Homo sapiens: one gene and its partners. The protein of the gene in region 4 interacts with the protein of the main gene of each other region in a pairwise test. Each region holds a gene or a part of one and is shown on either strand. Other genes may lie near its edges.

Region 1 (3,517 bases), on a different chromosome or scaffold from region 4:
ATCAGCACACAAAAACACACATCACTGGAGATTCCAAGGATTTTAGAAGTTGAATGCCAGGAGCCTGGTCAGGAGACCAAATATGTATCTCTCAGTATCACAGAGCCTGTCAGTCCTACTGGTTTTACTCGTAAAATTTATCCTACATAAAACTACTCTCTCTCTCTTCCTTTAGCACTCCAGTTCAAGTTTCTCACCTGGACTACTGTGCTCTGTTCCTGCTTCCATTCTTGCCCCCCTTTCCATCTGTCATTGAAACAGGAGTTTAAAACAGAAGGCACTTTCGGCCGGGCACAGTGGCTCTCGCCTGTAATCCCAGCACTTTGGGAGGCCGAGGTGGGTGGATCACGAGGTCAGGAGATCAAGACCATCCTGGCTAACACGGTGAAACCCCATCTCTACTAAAAAAAAATACAAAAAAATCAGCCGGGCGTGGTGGCAGGCGCCTGTAGTCCCAGCTTCTCGTGAGGCTGAGGCAGGAGAATGGCGTGAACTTGGGAGGTGGAGCTTGCAGTGAGCCGAGATCACGCCAATGCACTCCAGCCTGGGTGACAGAGCGAGACTCCGTCTCAAAAACAAAACAAAACAAAACAAAACAAAAAACCAGAAGGCACTGTTAACTCAATGGCTTCTCAGTATACGCACAATAAAATCCCCCCTCCTCAGCCTACCGTACATGTCTTACATGATCTACTCTCTGACCGAATTTTGTATCGGTCTCCCTTTGCTCACTCTGCGCTAACTACACAAGCTGCAGTGAGCTGAGATCGCACTACTGCACTCCAGCCTGGACGACAGAATGAGACTCCGTCTCAAAAAATTAAAAAACAACAACAAAAATTAGGCCGGGTGCAATGGGTCATGTCTATAATCCCAGCACTTTGGGAGGCCAAGGCAAGTGGATCCCTTGAGGCCAGGGGTTCGCGACCAGCCTAGCCAACATGGTGAAACTCCGTCTCTACTAAAAATACTGAAATTAGGGCCAGGTATAGTGGCTCATGCCTGTAATCCCAGTACTTTGGGAGGCCAAGGCAGGTGGATCACCTGCGGTCGGGAGTTCAAAACCAGCCTGGGCAACATGGTGAAACACTAAAAAAGCAAAAATTATCCAGACGTGGGGGCGCGTGCCTATTATCCCAGCTACCTGGGAGGCCGAGGCACAAGAATCGCTTGAACCCAGGAGCGAGAGGTTGCAGGGAGCGGAGATTGTGCCATTGCACTCCAGCCTGGGTGACAGAGGGAAACTGTCTCCAAAAAAAAAAAAAAAATAGCCAGGTATGGTGGCATGCACCTGTAATCCCACCCACCCAAAGGCTGAGGTGAGAGGATCACTTGAGCTCGGGGGGTAGAGACTGCAGTGAGCTGAGATCGCACCACTACATACACTCCAGCCTGGATAACAGACTGAGACTCCATCTCAAAACAAAAAACAAAAACAAAAAATAAAGTTTGTATCATCTGAAGGTAATGGTGAATTTTTACCTGCCAGTGCCCTGAGCAGGATCCCTGAAGAAGTCAAAGATTATCATGACCCAGAAATTGCACAGGCACAGAAAAAAGCCTCCCAAAAAGATCAATTCCCTTGATAAATGGAAATGGTATTCAAACACACACACCCTATTCACTTAGAATAGTATAATACCAACGAAAGGGAATCTGACAATTATACGATGTCAGAATTCAAAAAGATCTCACAGAAATACTCTAGTCAGGCCAGGCGTGGTGGCTGACACCTGTAATCCCAACATTTTGGGAGGTCGAGGTGGGCGGATCACCTGAGGTCCATAGTTTGAGATCAGCCTGGCCAACATGGTGAAACCCCATCTCTACTAAAAAAGACAAAAATTAGCCAGGTGTGATGGCACACACCTGTAATCCCAGCTACTTGGGAGGCTGAGGCAGGAGAATCGCTTCAATCTGGGAGGTGGAGGTTGCAGTAAGCCAAGATAGCGCCACTGCGCTCTAGCCTGGGCGACAGAGACGCTATCTCAAAAAACAAACAAAAAAACAAGAAATATCCTTTTTTTCTTTGAGATGGAGTTTCACTCTTGTTGCCCAGGCTGGAGTACAATGGTGTGATCTCGGCTCACTGCAACCTCCGCCTCCCAGGTTCAAGCGATTCTCCTGCCTCAGCCTCCCGAGTAGCTGGGACAACAGGCGCCTGCCACCACGCCTGGCTAATTTTTGTAGTTTTAGTAGAGACGGGGTTTCACCCATGTTGGCCAGGCTGGTCTTGAACTCCCGACCTCAGGTGATCTGCCCGCCTCAGCCTCCCAAAGTGCTGGGATTACAGACGTGGGCCACCGCGCCCAGTCATATCCTTTTTTTCTTTGAGACAGAGTTTCACTCTTGTCACCCAGGCTGAAGTGCAATGGCGCAATCTTGGCTCACTGCAACCTCCACTTCCCAGGTTCAAGCGATTCTCCTGCCTCAGTCTCTCGAGTAGCTGAAATTACAGGCATGTGCCACCACGCCCAGCTGATTTTTGTCTTCTTAGTAAAGATGGGGTTTCACCAGTCTCGACTCCCAACCTCGGATTGATCTGCCTGCCTCGGCCTCCCAAAGTGCTAAAGTGCTGCGATTAAAGGCGTGAGCCACCGCGCCCACCCTAAAAAATAAATATTCTAGTCTAGGCTGCATGTGGTGGCTCACACCTGTAATCCTAGCACTTTGCAAAGTACAGGCAGATGGATCTCTTGAGCCTAGAAGTTCAAGACCAAGGCCGGGCGCAGCGGCTCATGTCTGTAATCCCAGCACTTTGGGAGGCCGAGGCAGGTGGATCATGAGGTCAGGAGTTTGAGACCAGCCTGGTCAACATGGTGAAACCCCATCAATACTAAAAATACAAAAATGAGCTGGGTGTGGTGGCACAAGCCTGTAGTCCCAGCTACTCAGGAGGCTGAGGCGGGAGAATCGCTTGAACCCAGAAGGTGGATGTTGCAGTCAGCTGAGACTATACCATTACACTACAGCCTGGGTGACAAAGTGAGACTCCGTCTCAAAAAAAACCATTCAGCCAGGTGTGGTGGCTCACGCCTGTAATCCCAGCACTTTGGGAGGCTGAGGCGGGTGGATCACATGAGGCCAGGAGTTCGAGGCCAGCTTGGGCAACATGGCAAAACCCCATCTTACTAATAATACAAAACTTAGCCGGGTGTGGTGGCGCACGCCTGTAATCCCAGCTACTCAGAAGGCTGAGGCATGAGAATCGCTTAAACACAGGAGGCAGGGGTTGCAGTGAGCCGAGATCGTGTCATTGCACTCCAGCCTAGGCGACACAGCGAGACTCTGTCTCCCAAAAAAAAAAAAAAAAAATTGGCTAAAAGAAATTTGAAAATAATTGCACTATACCATGATAGAGCTCTGCCATCTGGAGGAGTCTGAGATAAAATAGCTGACCCAGGTTTAATTGCCCAGAAAAAGCCTTAGTCTTTGTTCTGTAAACACAAGATCATGGATGGAGGACAGGGTAGGAAGGGAGGAAGACAATACCCTTCAGCAGAAGGAAAAGGAGCTA
Region 2 (3,517 bases), on a different chromosome or scaffold from region 4:
GGCGCGGTGGCTCATACCTGTAATCTCAGCACTTTGGGAGGGTGAGGCAGGCACATCACCGGAGGTCAGGAGTTTGAGACCAGCCTGGCCAACATGGTGAAACCCCGTCTCTACTAAAAATACAAAAATCAGGCCGGGTGCAGTGGCTTATGCCTGTAATCCCAGCACTTTGGGAGGCCGAGGCAGGCGGATCACCCGAGGTTGGGAGTTCGAGACCAGCCATGACCAACATGGGGAAACCCCGTCTCTACTAAAAACACAAAATTAGCCGGGTGTGGTGGTGCACGCCTGTAGTCCCAGCTACTCAGGAGGCTGAGGCAAGAGAATTGCTTGAACTCAGGAGGTGGAGGATGCGATGAGCCGAGATCATGCCATTGCACTCCAGCCTGGGCAACCAAGAGCAAAACTCCATCTCAAAACAAAAACAAAAACAAAAATCAGCTGGGTGTGGTGGCGGGTGCCTGTAATCCCAACTACTCAGGAGGCTAAGGCAGGAGAATCACTTGAACCCAGGATGTGGAGGTTGCAGTGAGCTGAGATCATCTCAGCTGAGACTCTGTCTCAAAACAAAACAAAAAAAACACACATCAGATACATGTATATATTTGCACAGACAACTTTCAGGAAGATACACAATAAACTAACTGCCTGCCTCTGAAGAACAGGACAGGGAAACACAGTTGGAGAGAGACTGACTTTCAACCCTCCCCCGTGCTGCTGTTCTCCAAAAATGCCCATTCCCTCCAAATGTGTGTGTGAGCACACTTCTGTGTTAGCGCAATGCAACTCTAATTAGAATTCCAACAGAAGTCTTTTAAAGGAATGACTACAACTACTTGAGAATTCATAAGAAGAATGGATGCTAGAGAATAGCCAAGAATTTAACTGGAAAGAACAGAGGGTGGGGACTGCCTTGCCAGGAATCAGAGCCAAGGGTGGGTAGGAAGCCGCTGCAATTAAACCAACAAGTTGTTGACAGAGGAACAGATGAAGCCAGACAGGTATGTGGGAAATTGGAAGATAACAAAAATGTTACATTTTAGTTCAGCAGGAAATCAGTGGTTCCTTTAGTAACTTGTGTGTACCCAGATGGGATACATCAATAACCAATTTTTTTGTTTGTTTTTTTTTTTGAGACAGAGTTTCACTCTTGTTGCCCAGGCTGGAATGCAACGGCGAGATCTCGGCTCACCGCAACCTCCACCTCCTGGGTTCAAGTGATTCTCCTGTCTCAGCCTCCCAAGTAGCTGGGATTACAGGCATGCGCCACCATGCCCAGCTAATTTTTTTTGTATTTTTAGTAGGGACAGGGTTTCTCCATGTTGGTCAGGCTGGTCTTGAACTCCCGACCTCAGGTGATCCGCCCGCCTTGGCCTCCCAAAGTGCTGGGATTACAGGCGTGAGCCACCGTGTCCAGCCACCAATTTTTTTTTTTTTTTGAGACGAAGTCTTGCTCTGTCACCCAGGCTGGGATGCAATGGGGTGATCTTGGCTCACCGCAACCCCTGCCTCCCAGGTTCAAGCAATTCTCCTGCCTCAGCCTCCCGAGTAGCTGGGATTACAAGCACCCACCAGCACGCTCGGCTAATTTTTTAAATATTTTTAGTAGAGATGGGTTTTCACCATCTTGGTCAGGCTGGTCTCGAACTCCCGACCTCAGGTGATCCACCCGCCTTGGCCTCCCAAAGTGCTGGGATTACAGGCATGAGCCACCACGCCCAGCCCAACAATAACCAATTTTGGATTAAGATGAAGACCAAGTGTGAGCATTAACAGTGGCCTCATGTGCTCCTGGTCCCCCTGTCTGACATCTGCCTACCCTCAAGGGCAGAAGTGCCTTCTCTCCTGCCACACCCTGACCCTTTCCATGGGTCACCCACCAGCGCACAGATCTGCCATTTCTTTATTTTGAAACAGAATCTCGCTCTGTCACCCAGGCTGGAGTGCAGTGGCATGATCTAGGCTCACTGCAACCTCCGTCTCCCAGGCTCAAGCGATCCTCCTACCTTAGCCTCCTGAGTAGCTGGGACTACAGACACCTGCCTCCATGCCCGGCTAATTTTTGTACTTTTTGTAGGTACGGGGTTTCACCATGTTGCCCAGGCTGGTCTCGAACCCCTGAGCTCAAGTGATATGCCCCTCTTGGCCTCCTAGAGTGCTGGAATTACAGGCTTGAGTCACTGCGCCTAGCCCTGCATGCGAATTTGACCTTGGGTGAATGCACAGCTCTGGTCCCCTGGAAACCTGGCAGAGGTGGATGGTCATTCTCTCTACGGACCAATCACACCTGGGCTGTGACTCAATGATGAACAACCACAGGAAGTACATTCAGGGCCTCCCTAGCAGGTCTTGCAGCCAGTTCTCTTGACACAGGAGGTGCTGGCTTGTATGACCACGAGGCTTTCGACTAGGCTAACTCCTCCTCCTACCTGCATCTTGTGTTTATGCACCTCAGTACTCCCTGGATGGCTGCTGGATGATGCTGGCCAGCTTTTCCGAGAAGCTGCTGCTAGGCATGGTTGTCCTGTGAGTCTGAAAAGTCAGTTGAGCCCAGTAGCTCTTTTGGTACACTTGAGCTCGTGATCCCCCTTCCCTCTGACTCAACCTTTCAATATGGGTGTCTCATAGCATCTCAGACATTTAACATCCCAAACCAAGCACCCCCTCTACCATCATTTCTACCCCCAGCTTGGTCTGTGAGCCTGTGCATCAGCCTCCTTCCTTCTTCACTCCCACACTTCTATTCACCTTCCAAGCACATCCAGAACCTGACCATGTTGCCCATCTCGCCCTCCCTGCCCCATGACAACCACCCCTAGATGTTCGGCAGCTCCCATCTGGGCAGACAGACTCCCAGCACCGTCTGTCTGCCCAGCCCCTCCATCTACCTTCCTGTGAGAACACAGTGACTGTCCTCTGCTCCAAGGTCCTCCCAGGACCCCACTGGCTCCTATGGGCATGCCCCAAACTTTGTGATTTTCCTCAGAGCCCTGCAGCCCTTTATCCCTTGGCCTGTGCTCCCCATCCAACTCTTAGAGACCTCTGCCCCACCCACCGCAGCAGCCCTGGCCTCACCCAGCTCTCATCCTATCCCTTTCTCCTGCACCAGCAGACCAAGAAGCAGGCCCAACAGAGTAATCAGTGGTCGACCTTTTTTTTTTTTTTTTAATTACTTCTAGGCTAATGATTACAAATTGCCAGGCAATGTACTTTTTTAAACTTTTAATTAATTTCTTAGAGACGGGGTCTCACTTTGTAGTCCAGGCTGGAGTACAGTGGCTCAATCACAGCTCAATGCAGCCTCCAACTCCTGGGCTCAGGTGATCCTCCCACTTCAGCATCCCAAGTAGCTAGGAATACAGGTTGCACCACCATGCCTGGATAATTTCTTAATTTTTTTTTTTTGGTAGAGACGAGGTCTTGCTGTGTTGCCCAGACTGGTCTTGAACTCCTAGGCTCAAGGGATCCTCCCTCCTTGGCCTCCGAAAGTGTCAAGATTACAGGCCTGAGAACACCA
Region 3 (3,792 bases), on a different chromosome or scaffold from region 4:
TGATGGTCTCCTGACAGCTCCCCACTTCCCACCCCAGGGGCCTTGGTGTGGACAGCAAGCCAGAGCTGCAGCGTGTCCTAGAGCACCGCCGGCGGAACCAGCTCATCAAGAAGAAGAAGGAGGAGCTGGAAGCCAAGCGGCTGCAGTGCCCCTTTGAGCAGGAGCTGCTGAGACGGCAGCAGAGGCTGAACCAGGTGGGTGATGGGCACCCAGCAGGGACCACGCATCCTCCAGGGCTGTCCTCCAGGGAGGAGCTCTGCTGTGGCCACAGCTAGTAAGAGGGAAGAGGATCAGCAGACAGAGCACTGGACTAAGAGTCCACTCCTGGCCTGAGTCCTCCCTCTGCCATTCACTTTGCTAGGTCCTTAGGGCGAGTGGCTTCCCTGAACCTCAGCTTCCTCACTGGCCCAGTGTACTGCATGCTGATTCTGATTTCATTCTTATAACTGTCTTGTGAGCCAGGTGGCATTCCCATTTTAGAGATGGGGAAGCTGAGGCCCAGAGGGGGTGAGTGATTTGAACCAGGCTGCACAAGGAGAACTCAGTCTCATGCTCTGTGCCCCAGCTACCAGGCTGATAGCAAAACTCATCCCCAGGTTGGTTCTGTTTCCCCACTGAGTGGGCCCTTGGTCCAAACTCCACAGGTTTTCAGAGTAGGAATCCCCCTAGCTCCACCCACTTCACTCTCTGCTTCTCCCTCCTTCAGCTGGAAAAACCACCAGAGAAGGAAGAGGATCACGCCCCCGAGTTTATTAAAGTCAGGGAAAACCTGCGGAGAATTGCCACACTGACCAGCGAAGAGAGAGAGCTGTAGGGCCAGCTGCCGGGCTCAGGCCACTGCCCACCCTGGCCTGGACAGCCTCCTTCAGCCCTTCTGTACCTGGCAGCCCTGGGCCCCAGGCCCTGGGACGTCTGTGATGTTCCCACCTGCTTCTGTAGAAATGTGTCACCCCAGAGGGCCTGGCTCTCCCTGGGAGGCTGGGGCCCCTAAGCTCCTAGGTTTTCCTTCCAAGCACCCAGCCCTCCTGCTCCAAGAGGGATAACCTGCACCCCTCCCTGCAAGGGGTTCAGAGCCCAGCACAGGAGCTTTCTCTGGCAGAATTGAGGAGGAAGAGGTGGCCCTCTGACTTGACAAGCCTTCTGTTCTGCCCAGGCCTTCCCACCAGGAATCTCCGAGGCTCCCCAGGGCCCCGCTTCTCCGTACACCCCAGCTCCTAGGTCTCAGAGAACTCCCCCACCTGTGGTTTTACCTGCAGCCAGCAGAGCTTAGCTTCAAGGACACCTGCCTTCAAAGCCACTGAGGGGAGGAAGGGCAGGGCAGACTGCAGATGGCCTTGTTGCTGGCATCCCGGCCAGGTGGGCGGGGACTAACAAAGACAGCTGTTTAGGGTCTTCTCCCCTCACCCATGCTTTCATCATCCCCTCCGCACAGCCTCCCCGTCCAGGCCTTCTAACCACACCTACCCAGGGCTGCCGCATTCCTGCACTCAGAAGTCTGCAGCGGTGCCTCACAAACTTGATTGTGCATAAAAATCACTGGGGATCTTGTTAATACAGCTTCTAACTCAATAGATCTGGGAGATCCTGCATTTCTAACAAGCTCCCAGGTAAGGCGGAGGCTGCTGGTGTGAGGACCATGCTGTGAGCAGCAGGGCGAGAGTGCCCAGGGCTGATATATATTGGAAATATCACCCCTGAAGCCATCGCTGGCCCCCACCTCCTGTGGACTGATGCCCCAGGGATTCCCACCCCACTTCTGCAACCCCAGGTATCCTTCATTATCCACCCCATCCCAGACTCCCACCCCAGGGATTGCCCGTGAAGACTTTGGCCTAGCAAATTGTGTTGGTTATGTGAGTGTTGTTTTAATCAGAGATGTACATGATTGCCAATCTGCATTTCTTACCAGTGTGACCACACTGTTACGATGCAATTCTAGCCAAAAAAAAAAAAAAAAAAAAAAAAATTTTTTTTTTTTACTTTTTCCTAGTCTTATGGAAAGCAAATATACAATGATTTTCAGTAGGCTTCTGGAATAGAAACAGTGGTTTGAAGACCCCACTGCCACCTTTATGGACTGGCCCCTTTGAGTCTGAATCCCCGGCCTCTGTCACCTGAGACCCAACCCCTAGCTGGGCCAACTCCAGTGAATTCACCCATTTTTCTTCTTCAGAAGGCCTTTCCTGTGTGAGACCCACATATTTTAACCTTTTGCTCCTATCCCATTTTTAAAGAATTAGAGAATAAACCAGGCCTGTTTCTTTTCCCCTGAAATCCCTGCCTCTGGCTTCCTAAACCCATCATCTAAGGTGACAGAGCAGTGCTGGAATAGCATCTCCTTTCACTTTCCCAAAACTGCCACAGATAGCTGCCACTGGCATGCTCTTTGATTCCTGGAAGCAAACGTGGGACTGTCGGAGGAAAGGGATTGTTCTGGTCTTACTCATAACTGGGTGGTTTGAGGGTGACTGAAGTCGTGCTTTTCCTGTGTGTGCTGCCAGCACAGGGCTGTAAATGCAGATATTGCGCCTGTGTGCGTGTGTATAAGTCAAGCTCCAAGAGGCTCCTGAATGTGACTGGCGTGCTGAGAATGTGTTTACGCTGTTTAATGTCTGCCAGGTGAGGGTTACACTGAAGATGCACAATCCCTAAAATAAAGATCACCACTTCCCCAAAGAAGCAGCCCTCGGGTCCATGTGTTGTTCAGACATGTGAAGAGAAGCAAGACAGAGGGTCTCAGATGGACGAGGGCTCTCCAAGGGAATGCCTGGGGATTCACCCAGTGGTCCCCAGAGGTGCTCCATGGAGGCAACAAGTCATTCCATGAAGCCCCAGAGGTAGAAGGGACCTCAAGCACCACGCCCTCCAGGGCAGCCGTGCAGACGACCTTGGTTCACTTTTCAGGGGTCGTCCCAACTCTGTATCTCCAGCCACTCCAACTGTGGAGGCTGTAAATCCAGATTTTCACTGTTCCAGTCTCCTTTGCAGCTTAGGATGGCTATGTGATCAGGTGTGGCCAATGAAATTGAAGAGGAAGTCTACCTGGGCTTCTGGGAAAGCTTTTCCAATAAAAGACACAGGCATGGCTAACACCTCCCTGGGCCTCTTCTTCCTACCTTGATTGAGGGTGTGATGCCTGGAGCCACAGCAGCCACTTTGCTACCATGACAAAAAGGCCAAGAGAATCACAGAGTCATTGACCCTATCATTATTTCACCAAGCCAATACCAGCCGCCATCCTTCTCCAGAATTCTTGTAAATAAAATAAATCCCTCTTTGTTTAAACCATTGTTGGTCAGTCTCTGTTACTTGCAACCAAAATCATCCCTAACTGACACAGAAGGCCAGTCCCTGCCTGTCCAAAATTACCTGCAGGCTGTGCTAAAAATCCAGATTCAACTTTCCCATCAGAAGCCTATTGGATCAGGATCCCCAGCTGCAATGCCTGGGATCTGTTTTTCTGCACCTTCCCCATATAGCCTACCTAGCATGAGTCTGAAAACTGGTACTTGGACATGACTAAAGCACACATCATTCAACAAATATTTATCGAGTTCCTGCTCCATGCCAGGATGCATGCCATAGGCTGGGACACAGTAGAGAACAAAGGTGCAGTGCCTCCCCCTCATCTGATGACTGCAGTGGTCTCCTCCCAACTGGTCTCCCCTACTGGCCTTGTCCCTACACCCTGTTCTCAACAGAGGAGCCAAAATGATCTTCCTCCAGTCTAAGGCAGAACTTGCGACTCTGCACAGAGCCCTCCCTGGGCTCCCAGTGGAGTCTCTCCTGCAT
Region 4 (3,517 bases):
TGTTTTAGACATGAAGTCCTTGCCCATGCCTGTGTCCTGAATGGTATTGCCTAGGTTTTCTTCTAGGGTTTTTATGCTTTTAGGTCTAACATTTAAGTATTTAATCCATCTTGAATTAATTTTTCTACAAGGTATAAGGAAGGGATCCAGTTTCAGCTTTCTACATATGGCTAGCCAGTTTTCCCAGCACCATTTATTAAATAGGGAATCCTTTCCCCATTGCTTGTTTTTCTCAGGTTTGTCAAAGATCAGATAGTTGTAGATATGTGGCATTATTTCTGAGGGCTCTGTCCTGTTCCATTGATCTATATCTCTGTTTTGGTACCAGTACCGTGCTGTTTTGGTTACTGTAGCCTTGTAGTATAGTTTGAAGTCAGGTAGCGTGATGCCTCCAGCTTTGTTCTTTTGGCTTAGGATTGGCTTGGTGATGCGGGTTCTTTTTTGGTTCCATATGAACTTTAAAGTAGTTTTTTCCAATTCCGTGAAGAAAGTCATTGGTAGCTTGATGGGGATGGCATTGAATCTATAAATTACCTTGGGCAGTATGGCCATTTTCATGATATTGATTCTTCCTATGCATGAGCATGGAATGTTCTTCCATTTGTTTGTATCCTCTTTTATTTCATTGAGCAGTGGTTTGTAGTTCTCCTTGAAGAGGTCCTTCACTTCCCTTGTAAGTTGGATTCCTAGGTATTTTATTCTCTTTGAAGCAATTGTGAATGGGAGTTCACTCATGATTTGGCTCTCTGTTTGTCTGTTATTGGTGTATAAGAATGCTTGTGATTTTTGCACATTGATTTTGTATCCTGAGACTTTGCTGAAGTTGCTTATCAGCTTAAGGAGATTTTGGGCTGAGACAGTGGGGTTTTCTACATATACAATCATGTCATCTGCAAACAGGGACAATTTGACTTTCTCTTTTCCTAATTGAATACCCTTTATTTCCTTCTCCTGCCTAATTGCCCTGGCCAGAACTTCCAACACTATGTTGAATAGGAGTGGTGAGAGAGGGCATCCCTGTCTTGTGCCAGTTTTCAAAGGGAATGCTTCCAGTTTTTGTCCATTCAGTATGATATTGGCTGTGGGTTTGTCATAGATAGCTCTTATTATTTTGAGATACATCCCATCAATACCTAATTTATTGAGAGTTTTTAGCATGAAGCATTGTTGAATTTTGTCAAAGGCCTTTTCTGCATCTATTGAAATAATCATGTGGTTTTTGTCTTTGGTTCTGTTTATATGCTGGATTACATTTATTGATTTGCGTATATTGAACCAGCCTCACATCCCAGGGATGAAGCCCACTTGATCATGGTGGATAAGCTTTTTGATGTGCTGCTGGATTCAGTTTGCCAGTATTTTATTGAGGATTTTTGCATCAATGTTCATCAAGGATATTGGTCTAAAATTCTCTTTTTTGGTTGTGTCTCTGCCAGGCTTTGGTATCAGGATGATGCTGGCCTCATAAAATGAGTTAGAGAGGAGTCCCTCTTTTCCTATTGATTGGAATAGTTTCAGAAGGAATGGTACCAGCTCTTCTTTGTACCTCGGTAGAATTCGGCTGTGAATCCATCTGGTCCTGGACTTTTTTTGGTTGGTAAGCTATTGATTATTGCCACAACTTCAGAGCCTGTTATTGGTCTATTCAGAGATTCAACTTCTTCCTGGTTTAGTCTTGGGAGGGTGTATGTGTTGAGGAATTTATCCATTTCTTCTAGATTTTCTAGTTTATTTGCGTAGAGGTGTTTGTAGTATTCTCTGATGGTAGTTTGTATTTCTGTGGGATCGGTGGTGATATCCCCTTTATCATTTTTTATTGCATCTATTTGATTCTTCTCTCTTTTCTAAATTTTTTTTTTTTTAATTAGACAGAGTCTTGCTCTGTCACCCAGGCTGGAGTGCAGTGGTGCAATCTCAGCTCACTGCAACCTCTGCCTCCCAGGTTCAAGCAGTTCTGTGCCTCAGCCTCCCGAGTAGCTGGGATTACAACTGTCTGCCACCACACTCAGCTAATTTTTGTATTTTTAGTAGGGATGGGGTTTCACCATATTGGCCAGGCTGGCCTTGAACTCCTGAGCTCCACCCGCCTCGGGCTCCCAAAGTGCTGGGATTACAGGTGTGAGCCACCATGCCCAGCCTTCTTGATGGAACTTACACTGTAGTGGGGCACAATTGCAAGAGGTTTGGCCAATTTGATTTGGAGGGGTAGAGGTGAGGAGAGGAATATTGTCAAGAATGAACCCAAGCAAGAGTCAGAGGATGAGAAATAAACAAACAAACAAGTAAATAAAAAAGGATGAACCCAAGGTTTCTAGTTTGAGCAAATGGGTGAACAGGGTTACCATTAACTGGAGATTAAATTAAAAGGCATGTTTAAGTCAGAAAATGAGCTCAGTTTCTGAGTCACTGTGCTTGGCCGACAACTTATTTATTTATTTATTTATTTATTTATTGAGACAAAGTCTCACTGTGTCACCCAAGCTGGAGAGCAGTGGTGTCATTTCTGCTCACTGCAACCTTTGCCTCCTGGGTTCAAGCAATTCTCCTGCCTCAGCCTCCCGAATAGCTGGGATTACAGGCACATGCAACCACACCTGGCTAATTTTTTTTAGTACAGACAGGGTTTCACCATGTTGGCCAAGCTGGTCTCCAACTCCTGACCTCAAGTGATCTGCTCACCTAAGCCTACCAAAGTGCTGGGATTACAGATGTGAGCCACTGTGCCCAACCAGGCTGTCAACTTTTAAGATTTCTTTTTTGAGATGGAGTCTTGCTCTGTCGCCCAGGCTGGAGTGCAATGGCACTATCTCAGCTCACTGCAACCTCCACCTCCCAGGTTCAAGTGATTCTCATGCCTCAGCCTCCTAAGTAGCTGGGATTACAGGTGTGCACTACCACACCCGGCTAATTTTTGTATTTTTTAGCAGAGATGGGGTTTCACCATGTTGACCAGACTGATCTCTAACTCCTGGCCTCAAGAGATCCGCCTGCCTTGCACCCCCAAAGTGCTGGAATTACAGGCGTGAGCCACAGTGCCCAGCCAACTTTTAAGAAGATTTTAAACGTAATACTTAACTATATGCTACAAGTAAATGTTGAAACCTAATTCTTACAGTCTTTGGAACAAGCAACAAAATTGTTTTGAGCTTCATAAAATATGAGCCTAAATTTTTATCATTTTTCACTTGTACAGGAAACATAAACTTAGGTATAATGTAACTTTATTGCATTTAATTAATGAAGGTTGCAACCTTATACTTTAAAAATTACACTATAGGTGACCGGGCGCGGTGGCTCATGCCTGTAATCCCAGCACTTTCAGAGGCCAAGGCGGGCGGATCAAGAGGTCAGGAGATCGAGACCATCCTGGCTAACACGGCGAAACCCCATCTCTACTAAAAATACAAAAAAATTAGCCAATCATGGTGGCGGGTGCCTGTAGTCCCAGCTACTCGGGAGGCTGAGGCAGGAGAATGGTGTGAATCTGGGAGGCGGAGTTTGCAGTGAGCTGAGATTG
Region 5 (4,012 bases), on a different chromosome or scaffold from region 4:
ATGGTGTTGGGAAAACTGGCTAGCCATATGCAGAAAACTGAAACTGGACCCCTTCCTTACACCTGAAATAAAAATTAACTCAAGATGGATTAAAGACTTAAACGTAAGACCTAAAACCATAAAAACCCTAGAAGAAAACCTAGGCAATACCATTCAGGACATAGGCATGGGCAAAGACTTCATGACTAGAACACCAAAAGCAATGGCAACAAAAGCCTAAATTGACAAATGGTATCTAATTAAATGAAAGAGCTTCTGCACAGCAAAAGAAACTATCATCAGAGTGAACAGGCAACCTACAGAATGGGAGAAACATTTTGCAATCTATCCATCTGACAAAGGGCTAATATCCAAAATCTACAAAGAACTTAAACAAATTTACAAGAAAAAAACAAACAGCCCCATCAAAAAGTAGGTGAAGGATATGAACAGACACTTCTCAAAAGAAGACATTTATGTGGCCAACAAACCTATGAAAAGAAGCTCATCATCACTGGTCATTAGAGAAATGCAAATCAAAACCACAATGAGATACCATCTCACACCAGTTAGAATGGTGATCATTAAAAAGTCAGGAAATAACAGATGCTGGAGATGATGTGGAGAAATAAGAATGCTTTTACAATGTTGGTGGGAGTGTAAATTAGTTCAACCGTTGTGGAAGACAGTGTGGCAACTCCTCAAGAATCTAGAATGAGAAATACCATTTGACCTGGCAATCCCATTACTGGGTATATACCCAGAGGATTATAAATTATCCTACTGTAAAGACACATGCACACATATGTTTATTGCAGCACTGTTCACAATAGCAAAGACTTGGAACCAACCCAAATGTCCATCAATGATAGACTGGATAAAGAAAATATGGCACATATATGCCATGGAATACTATGCAGGCATAAAAAAGATGTGTTCATGTCCTTTGCAGGGATATGGATGAAGCTGGAAACCATCATTCTCAGCAAACTAACACAGGAACAGAAAACCAAACACCACATGTTCTTACTCATAAGTGGGAGGTGAACAATGAGAACACATGGACACAGGGAGGGGAACATCACACATCGGGGCCTGTCAGGGCTTGGGGGACTAGGGGAGGGATAGCATTAGGAGAAATACCTAATGTAGATGATGGATTGATGGGTGCAGCAAACCACCATGGCACGTATATACCTATGTAACAAACCTGCACGTTCTGCATATGTATCCCAGAACATGTATAATAAAAAAAAAAAGAAAAGGACTTAGTGCCCCTGAATTGTATACTTAAAAACAGAGAGAGAGGTGGGAGGAAGGGAGAAGAGTATTCTAGGAGGAAGAGACTATGTGCAAAAAGTATTGGAAGCAGGAATGAATAAGACAACTCAGGAAAAAACAGCAAGTGCAGCTCAGTCTGGCCAGACACGTGGTGCCTTGAGGAGGGAGGCTGAGCGATGAGGCCGGACAGGGAGGAAGGATCCCGACTGCAAAGGGCCTTGAATGTCTTGCTAAAGACCTTGGACTTTCTTTGGGCACTAGGTATACATGGGAGGATTTTGTGCAGATGAGTGACTTTGTGTTTTAGGAGGATCTGTCTCCCAGCAGATTGGAAGGTGACTGGAAAGGGTGAGAATGGAGACAGGAAATGCCATGGAGACTGCAAAGTCTGCGCAAGAGATAGGGAGAACCTGGCTGTGAGGATAAGGCAGAATTAAAGATTTGGGAGATGTTTCTAAGGTAACCACTTCCAGACCTGGTGACTGGATGACAAGAGAGAGATCTGAGAGGCTGACAGGAAAGTGCCCCAAGGCCAGATGGGGAATTCTCACAATTCTGGACTACTGCCACCCTCCCTTTCTCAAGAAGAAGAGCAGTGCTAGCAGGTTCCCCTTCCCAGCTCCTCCCTCCCCTCTGCGCCCTGGCAGTCAGGGCCCTATAAACCCCATTTCCAGTCTGGATCCTGGGAGAACAAGTTTACCCTGCCCATAATCTGCAGAAGATCCCACTCGGCATTGGAGCTTTCTTTCCATAGTGAGTGAAGCCAAGGCTACAGTTCTTTGCACTCCACCTCTGTGGGGTCCTCTGAGAGCTGGAGCTGAAGTTCCCCCCAGACCAGGAACTACCACACATCCAAGTGGAGCCCTATCTGCCTTCAGTCTGGGAATGCCTCGAAAGTCCCTGTAACCTTAGGGTTCCCTGATGTGGAAGCCTTTCATCCAGATCCCCGCCCGATTTCCTCCCCTCATAACAGGACATCATCCTGCCCCAAACAGGCCCTAGGTAAAGCTACACTTCTTACCCGGTAGGGCTGAATGGCCTCGTCCAGGAACCCCACGGTGTGCGCCTGGTGCGTGGGACCCTCCCTGCAGAACACACAGAGGAACTCGGCATCGTTCTCGCAGAAGAAGTAGATCTTCTCGCCGTGCTCCTCGCAGTAAGTTTCTCCCAGCGGGCCCAGGGGCACAGGGGCCATGGGAGTCTCTGCCTGCTCCTCCTCTTGGCAGAGCGGGCAGAGCAGGATCTTGCCCGAGGATTGGGCCCCCATCTGGGAGAGCGCGGGGAGGCAGAGCCGGCAGAAGGTGTGTCCACAGGGAATGGTCACCGCATCCTCCAGCGGCCCCGCACAGAGGGTACAGGCAGGCAGCTCATGGACCACCTTCAGGGACGGGGTTGCGGGCATCACGGTGCCTTCCCCAGCCCGTCCACTCCGGTCTCCTCAGCCCACGCGAGTTCCCTTTCCCTGAAATCGAGTCACACTTACATGAATCGCAGAGGGAAACGGCTGCAAGGCTAAGAGACAGAGAGAGAGAAAGAGAGAGAGAGGCAAGAATGCCAGCACAGGGAAGCCACCTGGCTCCGCCTCTTGTGTTCCCTAGAACCCTGGCCACCACCTATCAGCGGAGTGGGTCCAAATTCCAGGGCGTCTCGAATTACCCAGAATTTCCCAGTGGCGGCCAAGTAAGCCAGTTCTTTACTCCTGGCTCCTTCTGGTCCCTAGGGTGGAGAACAGAGCACACCATGAGGTCACAGGGGGATGGGTTTCCTGGAATCTGTAGACCACAGTGGCTGGGGAGAACTGGGGAGCAGAAGCTTCCTGTCAGATTGAGCAGGTGGGAGCCATAAACTTCTGGCTCTGAGGCGTGCCCACAGCATCAAAGTCCAGGCTGGAGTGAGAGGTGTGGACTTCGGGAGATTCTGCCGGAAGTGTGTGGGCGGGACGCTGTTTCGACACTGCAGGTAGGGTGTAAGGATTGCTCATCGGGTCCCCTCTTCTGCTCTCCTTTCCTCCCTCACCACATCTGCCCATGGTGGCCCCTCCTACGGTCCCAAATCCCCCACCACCTGGCACAACAGTCCCCTTTGGGGTTCGGGTAACACTGGACTATTTTATTTATTTATTTATTTATTTATTTATTTATTTATTTATTTATTTTTACTGTAGCGGGGAGAAGGCAAGAAACCATAATGCAAATGATTTATGTTGATACACATTAGAAAACGATTAGTCAGATAATCAGTTTCAACCACATTTATCTAGGGTTTAGTATTTTTATATTACTACATTCAATTTTAATAACCCTCTAGGCAAACATTATTACCTTCATTTTACAGAGAAAGAAATGTAAACTGACTTTCCAAATGTAAAGTGACTTTCCAAAGGTCACAAAGCTAGAAAGTATCACGTTAAGGACGATCCCAGTCTCCTGGCTTAAAGCCCTACGCTCCTCCCACACCTCATGCCAAGACCAAGATCTGCAGCCACGGTCCTTCACCCATGCACACATCTGTGGATAAAACCAGGCCTTCCCCCATTCTCCCACTGGGTGATCAGCCTAGCCCCTTGTGGTTGCTCCCTTTTTACTCTAATCACTTTATTACCTCCCCTTCCCATCCAATCTCTGCTCTTCCTGCCACGAGTGCAGCCCAGGAACTAGTTTGTCCAATACAGGAGCCACCAGCCACATGTGTCTACTGAGCACTGAAATGTGGCCGGTCTGAATGGCGGCATGCTGTATATGTAAAATACATA

Evidence for each region.
Region 1: the proteins of NEXN (region 4) and FXR2 interact in binary tests that used the Homo sapiens proteins (3 or more experiments, as listed by UniProt).
Region 2: the proteins of NEXN (region 4) and ZNF250 interact in binary tests that used the Homo sapiens proteins (3 or more experiments, as listed by UniProt).
Region 3: the proteins of NEXN (region 4) and FAM107A interact in a two-hybrid assay, tested with the Homo sapiens proteins (one study listed by BioGRID).
Region 5: the proteins of NEXN (region 4) and TRIM15 interact in a protein complementation assay, tested with the Homo sapiens proteins (one large-scale study listed by BioGRID).

The regions. Positions count from the first base shown.
Region 1 is NC_000017.11:7,597,884-7,601,400, forward strand, and holds part of FXR2 (RNA-binding protein FXR2), read right to left. Parts: intron 1-3,517. UniProt on the Homo sapiens protein: mRNA-binding protein that acts as a regulator of mRNAs translation and/or stability, and which is required for adult hippocampal neurogenesis. Specifically binds to AU-rich elements (AREs) in the 3'-UTR of target mRNAs.
Region 2 is NC_000008.11:144,891,439-144,894,955, forward strand, and holds part of ZNF250 (zinc finger protein 250), read right to left. Parts: intron 1-3,517. UniProt on the Homo sapiens protein: May be involved in transcriptional regulation.
Region 3 is NC_000003.12:58,563,610-58,567,401, reverse strand, and holds the end of FAM107A (actin-associated protein FAM107A), read left to right. Parts: intron 1-37; coding exon 38-194; intron 195-706; coding exon 707-814; 3' UTR 815-3,285; downstream 3,286-3,792. UniProt on the Homo sapiens protein: Stress-inducible actin-binding protein that plays a role in synaptic and cognitive functions by modulating actin filamentous (F-actin) dynamics. Mediates polymerization of globular actin to F-actin. Also binds to, stabilizes and bundles F-actin.
Region 4 is NC_000001.11:77,895,107-77,898,623, reverse strand, and holds part of NEXN (nexilin), read right to left. Parts: intron 1-3,517. UniProt on the Homo sapiens protein: Involved in regulating cell migration through association with the actin cytoskeleton. Has an essential role in the maintenance of Z line and sarcomere integrity.
Region 5 is NC_000006.12:30,162,335-30,166,346, reverse strand, and holds the start of TRIM15 (E3 ubiquitin-protein ligase TRIM15), read right to left. Parts: upstream 2,802-4,012; 5' UTR 2,746-2,801; coding exon of another isoform or gene 2,744-2,745; 5' UTR 2,663-2,743; coding exon 2,282-2,662; intron 1-2,281.